Linked DNA regions of Homo sapiens: region 1 is linked to region 2. A link means that fine-mapping ties the variant in region 2 to the expression of a gene that starts in the linked region. Tissue or cell type: CD4 T cells. Region 2 holds a variant in brackets; the other region holds the start of a gene. All regions are shown on one strand. Distances are between the middles of the regions.

Region 1 (8,363 bases), 420 kb after region 2:
TAGACCTAAAACCATAAAAACCCTAGAAGAAAACCTAGGCAATACCATTCAGGACATAGGCATGGGCAAGGACTTCATGTCTAAAACACCAAAAGCAATGGCAACCAAAACCAAAATTGACAAATGGGATCTAATTAAACTAAAGAGCTTCTGCACAGCAAAAGAAACTACCATCAGAGTGAACAGGCAACCTACAGAATGGGAGAAAATTTTCACAACCTACTCATCTGACAAAGGGCTAATATCCAGAATCTACAATGAACTCAAACAAATTTACAAGAAAAAAAACAAACAACCCCATCAAAAAGTGGGCGAAGGGTATGAACAGACATTTCTCAAAAGAAGACATTTATGCAGCCAAAAAACACATGAAAAAATGCTCATCATCACTGGCCATCAGAGAAATGCAAATCAAAACCACAATGAGATACCGTCTCACACCAGTTAGAATGGCGATCATTAAAAAGTCAGGAAACCACAGGTGCTGGAGAGGATGTAGAGAAATAGGAATACTTTTACACTGTTGGTGGGACTGCAAACTAGTTCAACCATTGTGGAAGTCGGTGTCGCGATTCCTCAGGGATCTAGAACTAGAAATACCATTTGACTCAGCCATCCCATTACTGGGTATATACCCAAAGGATTATAAATCATGCTGCTATAAAGACACATGCACACATATGTTTATTGTGGCATTATTCACAATGGCAAAGACTTGGAACCAACCCAAATGTCCAATAATGATAGACTAGATTAAGAAAATGTGGCACTGTAGCCTTGTAGTATAGTTTGAAGTCAGGTAGTGTGATGCCTCCAGCTTTGTTCTTTTGGCTTAGGATTGACTTGGCGATGCGGGCTCTTTTTTGGTTCCATATGAACTTTAAAGTAGTTTTTTCCAATTCTGTGAAGAAAGTCATTGGTAGCTTGATGGGGATGGCATTGAATCTGTAAATTACCTTGGGCAGTATGGCCATTTTCACGATATTGATTCTTCCTACCCATGAGCATGGAATGTTCTTCCATTTGTTTGTATCCTCTTTTATTTCCTTGAGCAGTGGTTTGTAGTTCTCCTTGAAGAGGTCCTTCACATCCCTTGTAAGTTGGATTCCTAGGTATTTTATTCTCTTTGAAGCAATTGTGAGTGGGAGTTCACTCATGATTTGGCTCTCTGTTTGTCTGTTGTTGGTGTATAAGAATGCTTGTAACCAAAACAGCATGGTACTGGTACCAAAACAGAGATATAGATCAATGGAACAGAACAGAGCCCTCAGAAATAACACCGCATATCTACAACTATCTGATCTTTGACAAACCCGAGAAAAACAAGCAATGGGGAAAGGATTCCCTATTTAATAAATGGTGCTGGGAAAACTGGCTAGACATATGTAGAAAGCCGAAACTGGATCCCTTCCTTACACCTTATAAAAAATCAAGTCAAGATGGATTAAAGACTTAAACGTTAGACCTAAAACCATAAAAATCCTAGAAGAAAACCTAGGCATTACCATTCAGGACATAGGCATGGGCAAGGGCTTCATGTCTAAAACACCAAAAGCAATGGCAACCAAAGCCAAAATTGACAAATGGGATCTAATTAAACTAAAGAGCTTCTGCACAGCAAAAGAAACTACCATCAGAGTGAACAGGCAACCTACAAAATGGGAGAAAATTTTCACAACCTACTCATCTGACAAAGGGCTAATATCCAGAATCTACAATGAACTCAAACAAATTTACAAGAAAAAAACAACCCCATCAAAAAGTGGGCGAAGGACATGAACAGACACTTCTCAAAAGAAGACATTTATGCAGCCAAAAAACACATGAAAAAATGCTCACCATCACTGGCCATCAGAGAAATGCAAATCAAAACCACAATGAGATACCATCTCACACCAATTAGAATGGCAATCATTAAAAAGTCAGGAAACAACAGGTGCTGGAGAGGATGTGGAGAAATTGGGAACACTTTTACACTGTTGATGGGACTGTAAACTAGTTCAAACATTGTGGAGGTCAGTGTAGCGATTCCTCAGGGATCTAGAACTAGAAATACCATTTGACCCAGCCATCCCATTACTGGGTATATACCCAAAGGACAATAAATCATGCTGCTATAAAGACACATGCACATGTATGTTTATTGCGGCATTATTCACAATAGCAAAGACTTGGAACCAACCCAAATGTCCAACAATGATAGACTGGATTAAGAAAATGTGGCACATATACACCATGGAATACTATGCAGCCATAAAAAATCATGAGTTCATGTCCTTTGTAGGGACATGGATGAAGCTGGAAGCCATCATTCTCAGCAAACTATCGCAAGGACAAAAAACCAAACACCGCATGTTCTCACTCATAGGTGGGAATTGAACAATGAGAACACATGGACACAGGAAGGGGAACATCACACACCGGGGACAGGAAGGGGGAAGGGGGAGGGATAGCATTAGGAGATATACCTAATGCTAAATGACATGTTAATGGGTGCAGCACACCAACATGGCACATGTATGCATATGTAACAAACCTGCACGTTGTGCACATGTACCCTAAAACTTAAAGTATAATAACAAAAAACAGTCATACCAAAGAACTCTTTCCAATAAGCAGTTTCTAAAATCAACAGTTCCATGGCTGTTTAGTCTGAGAATCCAAGAAAGCAGAGATTCCTCAGTACTACTAAAAAATATAACCAAATTTCCTTCCTCTATTGCCTTTGGTTTGTATGTAGGTGTATCTGATAAGGCCACGTAGATGCACACAGGTTGAGAGACCTAGGGACCTAGATGGAGAAGGTCCCACTTTCTCCATGAAACCAGAATCTTAATCTTAGGATATAATTAACCTTTAGCTAGCCACAAGAAAGAAGAAAACCAAAGAGAATAAGAAATAGAGATGGACAATCTTTCCTGAGAAACAGGATTTGTTTAATGTATCTGCCAGTTACATGCAAGTGAATTAGTGGAAAAGGGAAGAGGCAAAAGGTATGCATAAGAAGTTTTAATGTACAGTGACCCTGCTTATAATAAATGCAGCTTAATCAATTTCTCTGGTTCTGACAAAACATATCAGCATTCTCTTCTCTTGGGGAAAGACATAAATGGAAGTGGGCAAACAGGCAGCAGGGAAACAAGGAGGAGAGAGTTCCTCTACTGCACTGCCTACACTTAGTATAGCACTTTGAAAAGGCAAAAGGATTACATATAGAATTATCTCACCTTCTACTATGTAAAAGTTTGTGTAATAATGGAGATCCTCCTGAAATAGAAGTTAGTTTACAGGTCAATTTGCCAAATCGGCTGTGCACTTTGCCTTTCTAAATCTTTTAATCTATAATTTTAAAAATTACATTAGATGATAGTTATAAGTTCTCTTTAAGATTTAAGATTCTGTGATTTTACTATTGTAGTGTCTATCCAGACTTCATTACCAAGTTCATTGTTGGTATGGGACAGGGATGACGGCTTATGCACCCTGCACATGGCTAGTGTTCTACAATTAGTCCATTTTTTAAACGCTGGTTGAGATGTGGGAAAGTATGTATCACTTGCTTCAATTCAAGGAGTTGGAAGGAATATACATATATACACTTGCATATAATATTTTTGGAATTAGAAACAAGAAAGTAATACTGGTTGCTTCTGAGCAAGGTGACGGAGGTATCAGGAGTTTTGGGTGGATGGGGAAATTTGTTTTCAGTATCAGTTGTCCTTTGTATTTATATTCTACTCTCCCCCTTGCTCTTTCTCCTCCAGCCACCCCGGCCTTCTTGCTCTTCCTCCAACATTTCAAAAACCCTCCCAATTCAAGGTCTTTGCACTTGTCATTCTGGTGCCTGGATCACTCTCCCTCCAGATACTCCCACAGTAAACTCCCTTACTTCGTTCAATGAGGCCAAAATGCCACGTTAATAATGAGACTTCCTTGACCACACTGTATGCAATGACTTCCCCCACAGACTCCCCATTACCCCTTAGCTAACAACCCCTATACCCTTAACATTTAGTAGCATCTGACATATTAAATATTTGGCTGTTTGTTTCGTGTTTGACTGCCTTTTGGAACACTGCCTGTGCTAACAATCAACAAATACTTGTTGAATTAAGAAACTTACTGCTTGAGGTTTTTAAAAAGTAATCACGAAATTACTTTTTCAACAAAAACAACCAGTTAGGGAATAAACATTTGATAAATTAACTTTTAGACCTATAGTATTATAGGATAAAGTCCAAACTTCGTTTCTCAACACATGGACTTTCCTCATCTGCCACGTATTGGCCACAGTCAAGTAGCCGGTTCCCTTTTCTCGTGCATAAAGTGGAGTTATTCATAATTACTTCACAGAATTAAGATTCAATGCAGATGAAAGCGCTTTTGTAACTAAGGCACTATAAGTTACCGTAAGCACAGGGTTTCTTCCGCGCTTGGAGCCTAGGAATAGTACAAGGTGTCAACCCGCGCTAAGGACCTGAGGTTCAAGGAGGGAAAAGTCTCCAGCGCAGCGCTAGGAGGCGCTACTCCGGCGCGGGGCGGGGCTCCTGGCCGCCGTTGCCAGGGAAACCGTCTGGGCGTCCCTAGTATCTGAGCCCTCGCGCCTGGGCCACTCAGCTCGACCTCTCTCCAGCGTTAGCAATAGGTGGAGCGCGGGCCAATCGGAAGAGGCCGGAGGGGCGGGGCGGGCAGTGGCCCTGGGAAGGCGGGTCCGCGGCCTCGCTCCCTGACTTCCGGGTCGCGGTGCTTGAAGGGAGTGTTCCGTCGTTTCCGTTGCCGGCTGTTTGCAGTGGGGAAACCGAGGCAGCTCCTGCTCCCCCTAGTTCTTCCGCTCCTGTGAGGTGGCTGCTGTTTCTTTTCCTCTTGCCCCGGATGCCTCGGTGCGGCTGCACTGAGAGCGCGCGGGCTCGCGAGCCCCGCGGGGTTCTGCGGGAACCCGGGGGCGCCTGGGCCGGCGGGTCTTTGTGCGAGCCCTGCCCTCCCATTCGCGGGCGGCGCGCGAGGGGGGTCGGCGCAGAGACGCCCAGAGCCCTGGGGTGCTCAGGCGCCGCTACGCGTGCATCCCCTCTGCTCGGCAGTTCTGCGCTTTTGTCCTAATGAGCGCGGACTAGATGGCTTGATTTTCAAGATAATGATCAACCCAGCTGTGCTATGCGCTCTTTCTGCACTGACCTGCGGGTACTTCGAACTTCGACAGTCCCTCCTCAGGCCCTAGTCCAGAGGTGACGTGTCTGTGGGAATGTTTAAGGCAGGAAGGAGACGAGCAATTTTGTTTTTAAGTATCTCCCTCTCACTAGTATCTCCCTGACTTTTTCATTTAGAAGCTGAAGAATTTTCTTATGGCATAAGATATAGTTGTATCGAGTGTGTACTTAGCAAAACAAAAACTTGTTAGTATTTCTGCCCTTGACCTATTGAATGGAAAATCAAGAATGAGCTAAGGTGTTATATACTCAGTGTTCAACTTGTATACTTAAGTTTGTAGTGTTTTTATTTGCTGGCATCACCTGACTGGGACAGTTGTAACGAATTATCCACATGGGATAAGAAGAGTGTATTCTATAAAAACAACTCTGATGTTTTGGTATATATTTTAATTGTTGATTAGTTGGAGTCCTCTTGATCTTGAACTGTTGAGCCCCAGTTCTCAAAGAATGGGAAGTTAGGAAACTAAGATATGAAATACAATTATTTAGCAAAAAGTGCAAACCATTCTGTTACTCTTTCAAGCCATTGAATAGTTTGAGTACATTGTTTGAATTTTAGTTTTGAAAAAGTGATTAATTGGCCATTTGATCATCAATTAATAGCGGTATATATTACACCTGCCATTGTTTTTAAATGCCTAATTAAACTGTCAAAACAGACACAATGAAATGATAGATACATAATTTGAGATTTGATCAGTTGTATAAACTTTTTAAATTTTAAAATTCAGTTTAAGGTCATTAAGCTTGTCTTGTATGTTTCCCTCCTCCAGGAAAAAAAAATGTTTATTTCTTTGTGGGAGTTCTTCTATGGGCACTTTTTTCGATTTTGGATGAAATGGCTATTACGACAGATGACTGGGAAGTGTGAATTGCAGCGAATATTTGATACCTATGTAGGTGCACAAAGGACACACAGGATAGGTAATGTTATTCAAAAAGAAAAAGTACTAATAAAAGTTTAACGGAGTGTTTTTCTCAGGACTCACAGTGACAGATGTATTTCTTTTGTATCCTGACAAGTCACTTAAACTGAATTTCATAAGCTCTGAAGTCCCGCTTTGACTCCTTCAGCTCTAAAATTGTATGAATTTATAGAAAAAGTGGTTATTTAATTGCTTATGTGTGGAAAGAATTCTCTGGCTCCTGAAGTTTATCGGTTATTCCTTAGATTATAGTTGCAACCTATTTTCTGGTGAAAAATTTCTATACTTACATAATCCCTTTGAAATTTTCACTCACATGGTGGGAAGAATGAGTGCCTCAGTCTACATCCATTTTTATACTTAGGATCCTTCATCAGTCTTTTACTTTCTTACTGTTACTTATGAAAGGCCTGTAATTATGTATCCAGTGGTCTCTAGGAAAGATTATTAGACTCATTCTCACTGTCCAATACCATAGCCAATAGCCACATTATATTGAGCATTTGAAATGTGGCTAGTCTAAATTGAGATGTGCTGTAAGTGTAAAATATAAACTGTATTTCAAAGACTTATAAGAAAATGTAAAAAGTCCCAGTAATTGTTTATATTCTTTGTATGTTGAAATGGTAATATTTTGGATATGTTGGGTTAAAAATATATTAAAATGTTATCTGTTTCTTTTTACTTTAATGTGGCTATACAGAATTTTAAAGTACACAAATGGGTCACATTTTGGCTTGTGTTATATTTCTGTTGAACAGTGTTGCTCTGTTACCTTCTAAAATACATCAGTTTTCAGTGCTTCATTGAAAATTTTACTCTAAAATTTGAACACAGATGAGTAAGAACTGTGTTTTGAAGTCGCTTCTTTTCAGCCAGGGTAAGGAAGAGCAGAGAAGTGCTCTAGCTCATGCTCTCTGTGTTAAACGGAAAATTGTGAATTAGCCAGATTTTTTTTTTGTGTTGATCAAGTGTGCTTCGACTGAGAAATCAACCCCTGTCAGGTTAAGAGAGTGGAGTATTGGCAAATGGAACCTGTATCCAAGACAACATCGGAAGAATGACAGACAGACGCTGCCTCATAGCAGCTGGTTGATTAAGTTTAATTACTTTCCTAGTTTTCTTACAACTTCATGGTTGACTTAAATTATTGCTGCTCTTTTAATTTGCCCTTTTGACTACTCAAAAGAACAAAGTACCTCTTGATAAGAAATCTCTTCAGGCAGTATGGGTTGGTGTTTTATAGTGTGGGGGAAGAATATATATAAAGGCATTTGTTTGTGGCAAAAGCATTTTTCCTAAATTTTTCAAATTGCTGAGAAAAGATTATTCGTAAATGTGCCAGAAAATTTTTTAAATAGACCAATAAAAATGTTCCTGTGATTCTTGATATAGAAACCAGGAATGGAGAAGCTATTTGTCTGGTGACAGAAGGGTTGACCAGATAATCTGAAGTCCTTGCCTATTTGTTGTACGATTTGGTTGCTATCACCTCAAATCTAAAGGCTCAGGCTAACAAATGAAAATGCAGTAGAGAGCACTCTCATTGTAGTCTTAAGATGAGTTTCTGGGACCTGAGCTACTGTGACACAATTATGGGTGAATTTGCAGTGGTTAGTAGACACTTTGGGGTCTAAACAGAAACATATGACCCCAGGTAATGAGGTTGGTGTCACCTCTTTGAATAGGTATTTTGTGTTTGGTTGAGTTTTTTGAAATCATATGTTTATACTGTAAGATTAAATTTTAAAATGCTTCCTGTTATATAGAAATTATATCTCCTGGAACTATTAGTTTGTTACTGGTTTGATATTTTTACTAGTTGTTTATTATAGGGTAATTGACAAACAGCATTTAAGTGATAACATCTTTTTTTTTTTTTTGTCATTTCAGAAAATTCCTTGACATACTCCAAGAATAAGGTAGGATAACATAAAGGTGGTAACTCTAGAAAACTTAACGTGGACATATTTTTTCTTAAAAAAAAAAAAGTGCCCTGCTAGAAGAGTGTTTTCTATAGTGAGCATTGAGTGAAATTTTCCCCGTTTAGAGGTAATATTCTGTTTTCAAACATTTCTCTATATATGTGTTTTTCGTGTGTATTTCAAAGAAAATACTTGAATAATTTGTCCTGTCCTGAGGTTTTATTTGTTTATTTTGCTTTAAGAGTTGATAGCTTTTAGGAAAGCAGGGCCTTAGGAGGAAAGTCGTCTTTTAGACTGTGTCCTCA
Region 2 (6,576 bases):
GAGTGCACAGCCTAAAACAGCCCAATACCCTGGAGAATACATTTGTATATTTAGTTTTATTTTAAAACACAGTGAAACAGGAAACACTATCTGCCAGAAAACTACCAAATATAGAATGTCCCACACCTCCCCATCCATGCAAAACACAAACGGACTAAGATTTCAATTCAGGGCAAGAGCATAAGAGATGAGTCTATTTCAAGGCAGGTTCCACTTGGGAAATGATAATCTTCTTTTGGTCTTGATAACCCACTCTCCTCAGTCTCTCTCTCCTTTCCTCTCTCCCTCCACCTTTCACCACCTCATCTCAGCTCCTTCAGTGTACAGGAGCTGCTTAGAAGGAGAAGACGAAGCCGAGGTTTTGTTCGAGTTGTTACAGTCCCATGGTCATTTCCGTAGTGGGTCAGCAAGTACAACCAAAGTAAATCCAAAGAAGGGAAGGATGAGAGCTACCTGGTTATTTTTCAAAAAGATGGGGCTTTGAAATGGGATTTAAAAAAAAGTTGGGAAGTATTAAAGGGAAAATCTTCCTGAAACCGGATACTGAAGAAGGAATGTACTGAAGGAAGACGGGGTGAAGAGTGGCCAGAAAAAAAAAAAGGTTAATTTTATAAATAATACCAAAGAGTTAAGTGGACAGAATGATGGGAAAGAAGCTAAAGTTTGGCCACTTATCTGACCATACCTGCAAAACTGGAAATTTCACAACCTCATCTCCAAGCTCACGTTCCTTCGTGGTGACAAGAGGGAAGTGAAGACTTTTAACCAGATGGGAAAAGTTACCACAATATTTCCAATACTGTGTTTCCACCAAATATTTCCAAACTGGCATAGGATAGAGGGCATGAACCAGCTATCACTGACTGGCTTGGCATTTTTGTCAACCTGCCTGTATTAAGAAACCTGTCTTGAAAAGAGCATTTTTATTAAAAGCTAAAAGCCTTCAAGTCCTCCACGTTTTTCTCCACTACGAAGTATTAGAATAGAGAGAATAAGCTATCGTTCATTTATTCAACATTTACTGAACACCTATTAATTATGTGCTCGGTCCAGGGAGTTCTTAAGAGTTCTCACATTTTCAAAAACTGGGAGAACTTCTATTTTGCATATGTGAAGTGTGTTTATTTATACCCAAACAATATTGTGATAAAGAACATTTGTAGTTCACTCAAAATATTCGCAGTATGCTCAAAAGGGCAAAGGTTTTTTGAATCCGAGCTCTATTACATACAATGCGCACGTCCTTGGGCAAATTATTTCTCTAGACCTTGTTTTCTTCATCTGTGTAATGGGGAACTAGGTTTCATCATTTTTTATGAAGATTAAGTGAAATATCAGCTGGCAAGCACTTAACAGAAGCTGGCACATGGCATTCAAGCAATCATGCATTTAGTAAATATTTATTGAGCACCTCGTATACGCCAGGCTGTGTTGTAAACACAGAGCCTCACCAACCAAAGGGAGAAGCCAGATTCCCCCTTTCTTATCCTTCCCGTATCATCACCAGGACTTCTCAGGGGCTCTGAAAGCCTGTGAAAATGAAACCAACTGGACGCAGTACCAATGCCAAACACCATTATTTTCAATATCTCATGGTGCTCTGCACCAAGGATTGAATTTTCAAGTGAGATTCACGCTGCCCATGAGTCCTGGGCACAAAGGCCATGTGGCTACTGGTCTGCATCGGGCTATTCACCTGGGGACCCAAAAGCAGAGCCCTGGAGCCACCCACACCCTGGCCTCCAGGGTTTAGACAGAAATAGAACTTAAGAGACATAGGTTGCTGTCTCTCTTGCCTTTTTGCTCTTAAAATGAGAAAGGTGACTTATTTTGAGGTGGGGGAGGGATACCCTCTATTCAGAGGAAGTTCCCACATGAACTGCTACATTGTTTCTCTGACTCATTTTTACTTTTCCTCCCCATTGCTTCCCAGCCCTCCCTTGATGTCTCGGTCTGTTCCAGATGTGGTACAATAGGCTCTTTGTTTACAAGATTGTAATGTGCAATAAAATCAGTTATGAGGCCAAGAATAATTTATGCACAAAAAAATAAGGACAGTAAAATTGACATGAATTGTATGTTTTACAGTACTTTTTGATCTGTTACATTCCTGTTGATAGAATTGATAGACACTAGCTAAAAACTTTTAAGTGTTCATAAAACTCTGTTCACATTGGAAGTATATCACACACACACACACACACACACACACACACGTGCACACAAACAACTCAGGAGCAAAACTTTTTTAAAAGCCTTAAGCAAAATACTGAGTTCTTAATTTTGTTACTGACACAAGCATCCACCCAGTCTCACAAGTAAGAAATCTGTAGCTATTTTCTTTTTTTTCTTTCTTTCTGTCTTTGTTTTTAGAGACAGGGTCTCACTCTGCCACCCAGACTGGAATACAGTGGCACCATCATAGCTCACTGCAGTCTCGAACTCCTGGGTTCCAGCAATCCTCCCGCCTGGAGTTATTTTCAGTGGGTAAGGCAAGGTTTCATGGGAAATCATAGACAGTTTGTAGCCAAACATGCTTGGCTCTGAATCTCAATCCTATTCACTTCTAGCTAGGAGGTTTTTAAACATCTCAAAGCCTCAGTTACTGCATATGAAAAATGGATTTTGGTGAAAATTAAATTAGATAAAGGATGAGCAGAATGTCTGAACACATGTTTGGCAATCAGAAAGTTATTTCTCCAACCTCCCTTCCCCAACACACCTCTCAAAACCTTTCTTTTCCATTCTATCACTCAGTTTCATCTCTCCTGGACTACTGCTCTCCGACAGGGTTTTCAGCCTTTTGTCTACTACTCCTTCAAACCATCCCAAACCTGCTATTACAAACAACATTCAAAAATCAGAAATTTGATCATGGCACTCCCTGTCACAAATCCTCCTATGGTGATAACATTCAGAACAAATCTGCATTCAGAGAAAGTCCACGTGTCCCCAACCCATCTGTTCAGCCTCAACTCCCCCATGACCACCCCACCCCTGCCCCTTGAACGACCGCAGCCCCCACGTTCCAGGCACCCAGTCATTGTGAGTGG[A/T]GCATGCCATCTGCTCTGGTGCATGGACTCTCACTGCCACTCCTCCGGGATGCCAGCCCCACTCCACCCCCTCCCATCTGTAGAGATCACTGTCTCCTTCAAGGCTTAGCCCCAGTGCCACTTCCTCTCTGCAACGTTCCCGGATTTCCTCTGCTGACTCAAGCCTCCACTCATGTGTCTATGCCTTTCTCAAGTTTATTATTTAAACTTTTGTTCTCCAGTTATCCATATCTATGAGGGTCCACCCCCCTAGACTCAGTTCCTCCATGACAGAGACCAAATTGTATTCATTTTTACAAACAGTCCTCAAGTTTTATCCTTCCTTGCAAGAAGAAAATAAAACCAAACAGATAATTTATTGAACTGAAAGGACAGAATGAGGATAGAAGTAACTAAACAATGCCCCTGTGAATAGAGGCATTTCTTAGTGGAAAAACATATATATGTGTGTGTATGTTTGTATAATGTAAAAACGGAGCAAGCCATTCCCAAAGTGCTTCAAATTCTGGCAAAACTAAGATGCACTTAAAATGAAGTCTTAGGTGTATTAAAAAAAAAAAAGATTTCAAAAACCTCAGCAAACCACAGAGGTATACACCATATGTGGTAGATTAAAAATGACCACAAATTCTTTGATCCTTCTTCCATGGACAGATGTGTCTATTCCACAACCTGCGTCCACCACTTTTAAAGGTGAGTTGCCTATAACTGCTTGGACCAATCAAGTATGGGAGTGATTTTGAATATGGGAGTGATATTATGCCATTTCCAAACCTAGTGCTTAATATGACTAACAGTTTTGGCCTTGGTCTCTTGGAACCCTGGGCTTCCCTGTAAGAAATATGAGTACCCTAATGGAGAAACCACATGGAATGGCTCCAAGGCTCCATGGAGAGGCAGACAGGCCCAGTGGGGAGCTCAGTCTTCCAGGCATCCTTGCCAAGGTGCCAGGAAGGTGAGTGAAGCCATATTGGATCCTCCAGATCAGAGCAGCCATTGACTGACTAACAGCAAGGGACCAGAGTCGACGCTACATGGAATAGAAGAATCACTCAGCTGAGCCCTGCTTGAACAAAATCACAGATATAATCAAATAATGGTTGTTTAAGCCGTCAAGTTTTGGTGTGGTTTGCTAGTTAGCAATAGGTAACAGGAACACAATTTTAATCCCTTTTGGCCCAGCGTCCTACCCTACCTAATAGAACACTTTTCCTCTAAAGGGAGGAAAGTGGCCTTGTGTAGAATAGAGCTCCCAAGTCACTGATGGTCTAGTTGAAGGGATGAGAAACTCACCAGGCTCTTGGACAGTTGCAGTTGTAATGCACTTGTGTAATGTATAATACACATTTCTTTCAGATAAGTTCAGTTTACCCACAGCTGTTCTATCTGTCAACAGATATTGGGGCAAATGTGGTTAATAACTTCAGGAACAATTTGGTAGAATTCTACTCAGGAAGCCAGGAGACCCTCCATTTCAGTCTTTTACCATCCACATCTCTTGTGTATATGAGGAAGAAATGTTTGTGTCTTCATTTGCCTAGCTATCACATGAAGAGAAGCATACGTGATACCTCTTAGATCAGTGTAAATTAGAAATGAAATCAGGTTATGGACTGAAAACACCTTCAGTTCCTTGGCCAAAAAAAGGCTAGGTAAACTCAAGGTACTATCATCATTTTGCAAATATGTTATTCCACTATATAAAATAGCCTAAATTAGTAAATGCAATTCCACGTGCTGGGTCAGCTGAGCATTTTTTTTTTTTTTTTACATTTGCCAGATTCCCCTTGTTTTGTCTTTCTAGCCAATAGAACAACACTAAAATATATGGAGAATTTAACTAACTTTTGAAAAAGAGATAACACAAGTTAGAACCAGAAGAAGTCATCTGTGCCATAAGTTTGTGTCTTCTAAGAGCCATCAGCCAGGCAAAATGAAGTGGGAAACTTGAAACTTAACATGTATAAATGATTTGTGTTGTTTTGTTTTAATGCTAAGTACTCAGCAAAAAGCTGAGTTATTAGAAAATGGACACTAGCCTGTGCTTGTGGGCATAAATTCTCCATCTATGAGAAGGCATGAATTGAGGCACTATATTGATTACATTATGTTGTTTATTCTCATATAACTCTCTATTGTAGAAACGATTTCTAGCCCCATCTTCAAGATGGGAAATGGAATCCTAGAGAGACTTCATTTTTCTCCTATATTTGTATTTAGCAATTGCTATTGCTGCCGTAAGAAAATAACACAGGGTGGCTTGAACAACAGAAATTTATTTTCTCACAGTTCTGGAGGCTGGAAGTCCAAGATCAAGGTGCCAAGCAAGGCTGGTTTCTCCTGAGGCCTCTATCCTTGGCTTGCAGATGGCCGCCTCCTATCTGTGTCCTCACATGTGGCCTTTTCTCTGTGCATGCTTATGCCTGATGTCTCTTCCCCTTCTTAAAATGACACCAGTTATACTGGATTAGGGCCCCACCCTTATGACCTCATTTAACCTTAATTATCTCCTTCAAGGCCCGCCCTCCAAATACAGTCACATTGAGGATTAGGGTTTCAGCCTATGAATTTTGCAGGCACATGAGTCAGTCCCTAAGAACTCTACAAATCACCAAGCCAGTCAGTGCAGAGCCAGGGTAGACACCCTGGCTCCCTGCCATTATCTGTGGTCCCCCTGATTACTATCCGTGGTACTTCACCATCCCATCACTGCCTCAGTCTATGTCCAGAGAAAATGGCCTTGTGTAAAATTACTCATCACCACCAAGTGAAGAGAATGAAGGCCACAGTAGGAAGTAAAGGAAAGAAGGGAAGCTGAAGCTATAGGAAGACAAATGTAAAATCCAGAAAAACTGACACTTAGCAAGGCAGAAAGTGCAGCTCACACCCAAACCTATTCTGTGGCCAAAGACTCCCCTCACCGTCCCCATAATTTGGGCTTTGTTGTAACTGCAAGAAACTCCCCGACGCCACTCTCAATGGTGAGGAAGGACCACTGCTTGCTCTGCTACTAGAAGTCATTGGCAGGGCACAACTCAATCACATGCTTTTTGCAAAATTACAAGATAATATACAATTTAATTTTTTCATCAGATTTTTGCAACCAAAAAATTTCAAAGACCTTGGAGTGCTATATAGCTAATAAATGCAATTAATAAAGATTTTGTGATCAGCTAAAACAGGTTAAATCCCAAAAAGCAAGACATGGTTTTTCTCCCTCTTTCAGATAATGCAGGGAAGCATCACATATTTATAAAGCACAAGCTTTCAACTATATTGGATTTTCCTTTTAAAAAGAACAATAATTTAAAGTGGCTTCTAGCAGAGAAATGTTAGGTACATTTAAATGGGTATTTGTGTTCTGAAAATCCTAATTGGAACTCTTCTATTGTTGTTGTTTATGTGTGTGTTTGTTGTGCTTCTGAGAAAGGGCTGAGGTTCTTTTGTGCATTAGAAAGCCTTTCATCTAAAATTCCAGTTTCATACAAAATTAAACCGGCATATTGGAGATACAACTTTACAG

The links. PIP is the estimated chance that this variant, and not a neighbour inherited with it, causes the effect.
Region 1: it holds the start of ELMOD2, and the variant in region 2 is fine-mapped to the expression of ELMOD2 in CD4 T cells (BLUEPRINT, PIP 0.95).

The regions. Positions count from the first base shown.
Region 1 is chr4:140,519,440-140,527,802 of GRCh38, forward strand. ELMOD2 (ELMO domain containing 2) reads left to right here and starts at 4,729. Exons shown (of 9, transcript NM_153702.4): 1 at 4,729-4,841; 2 at 5,981-6,131; 3 at 8,027-8,055. The coding sequence starts at 5,990. RefSeq lists silencers at 4,431-4,780, 4,971-5,090.
Region 2 is chr4:140,097,045-140,103,620 of GRCh38, forward strand. The region is part of intron 1 of MAML3 (mastermind like transcriptional coactivator 3); the gene reads right to left. Among named protein-coding and RNA genes, the nearest start is that of MAML3-AS1, 28 kb to the right of the region's middle. The variant A/T (reference allele first, on the strand shown) is at 3,054.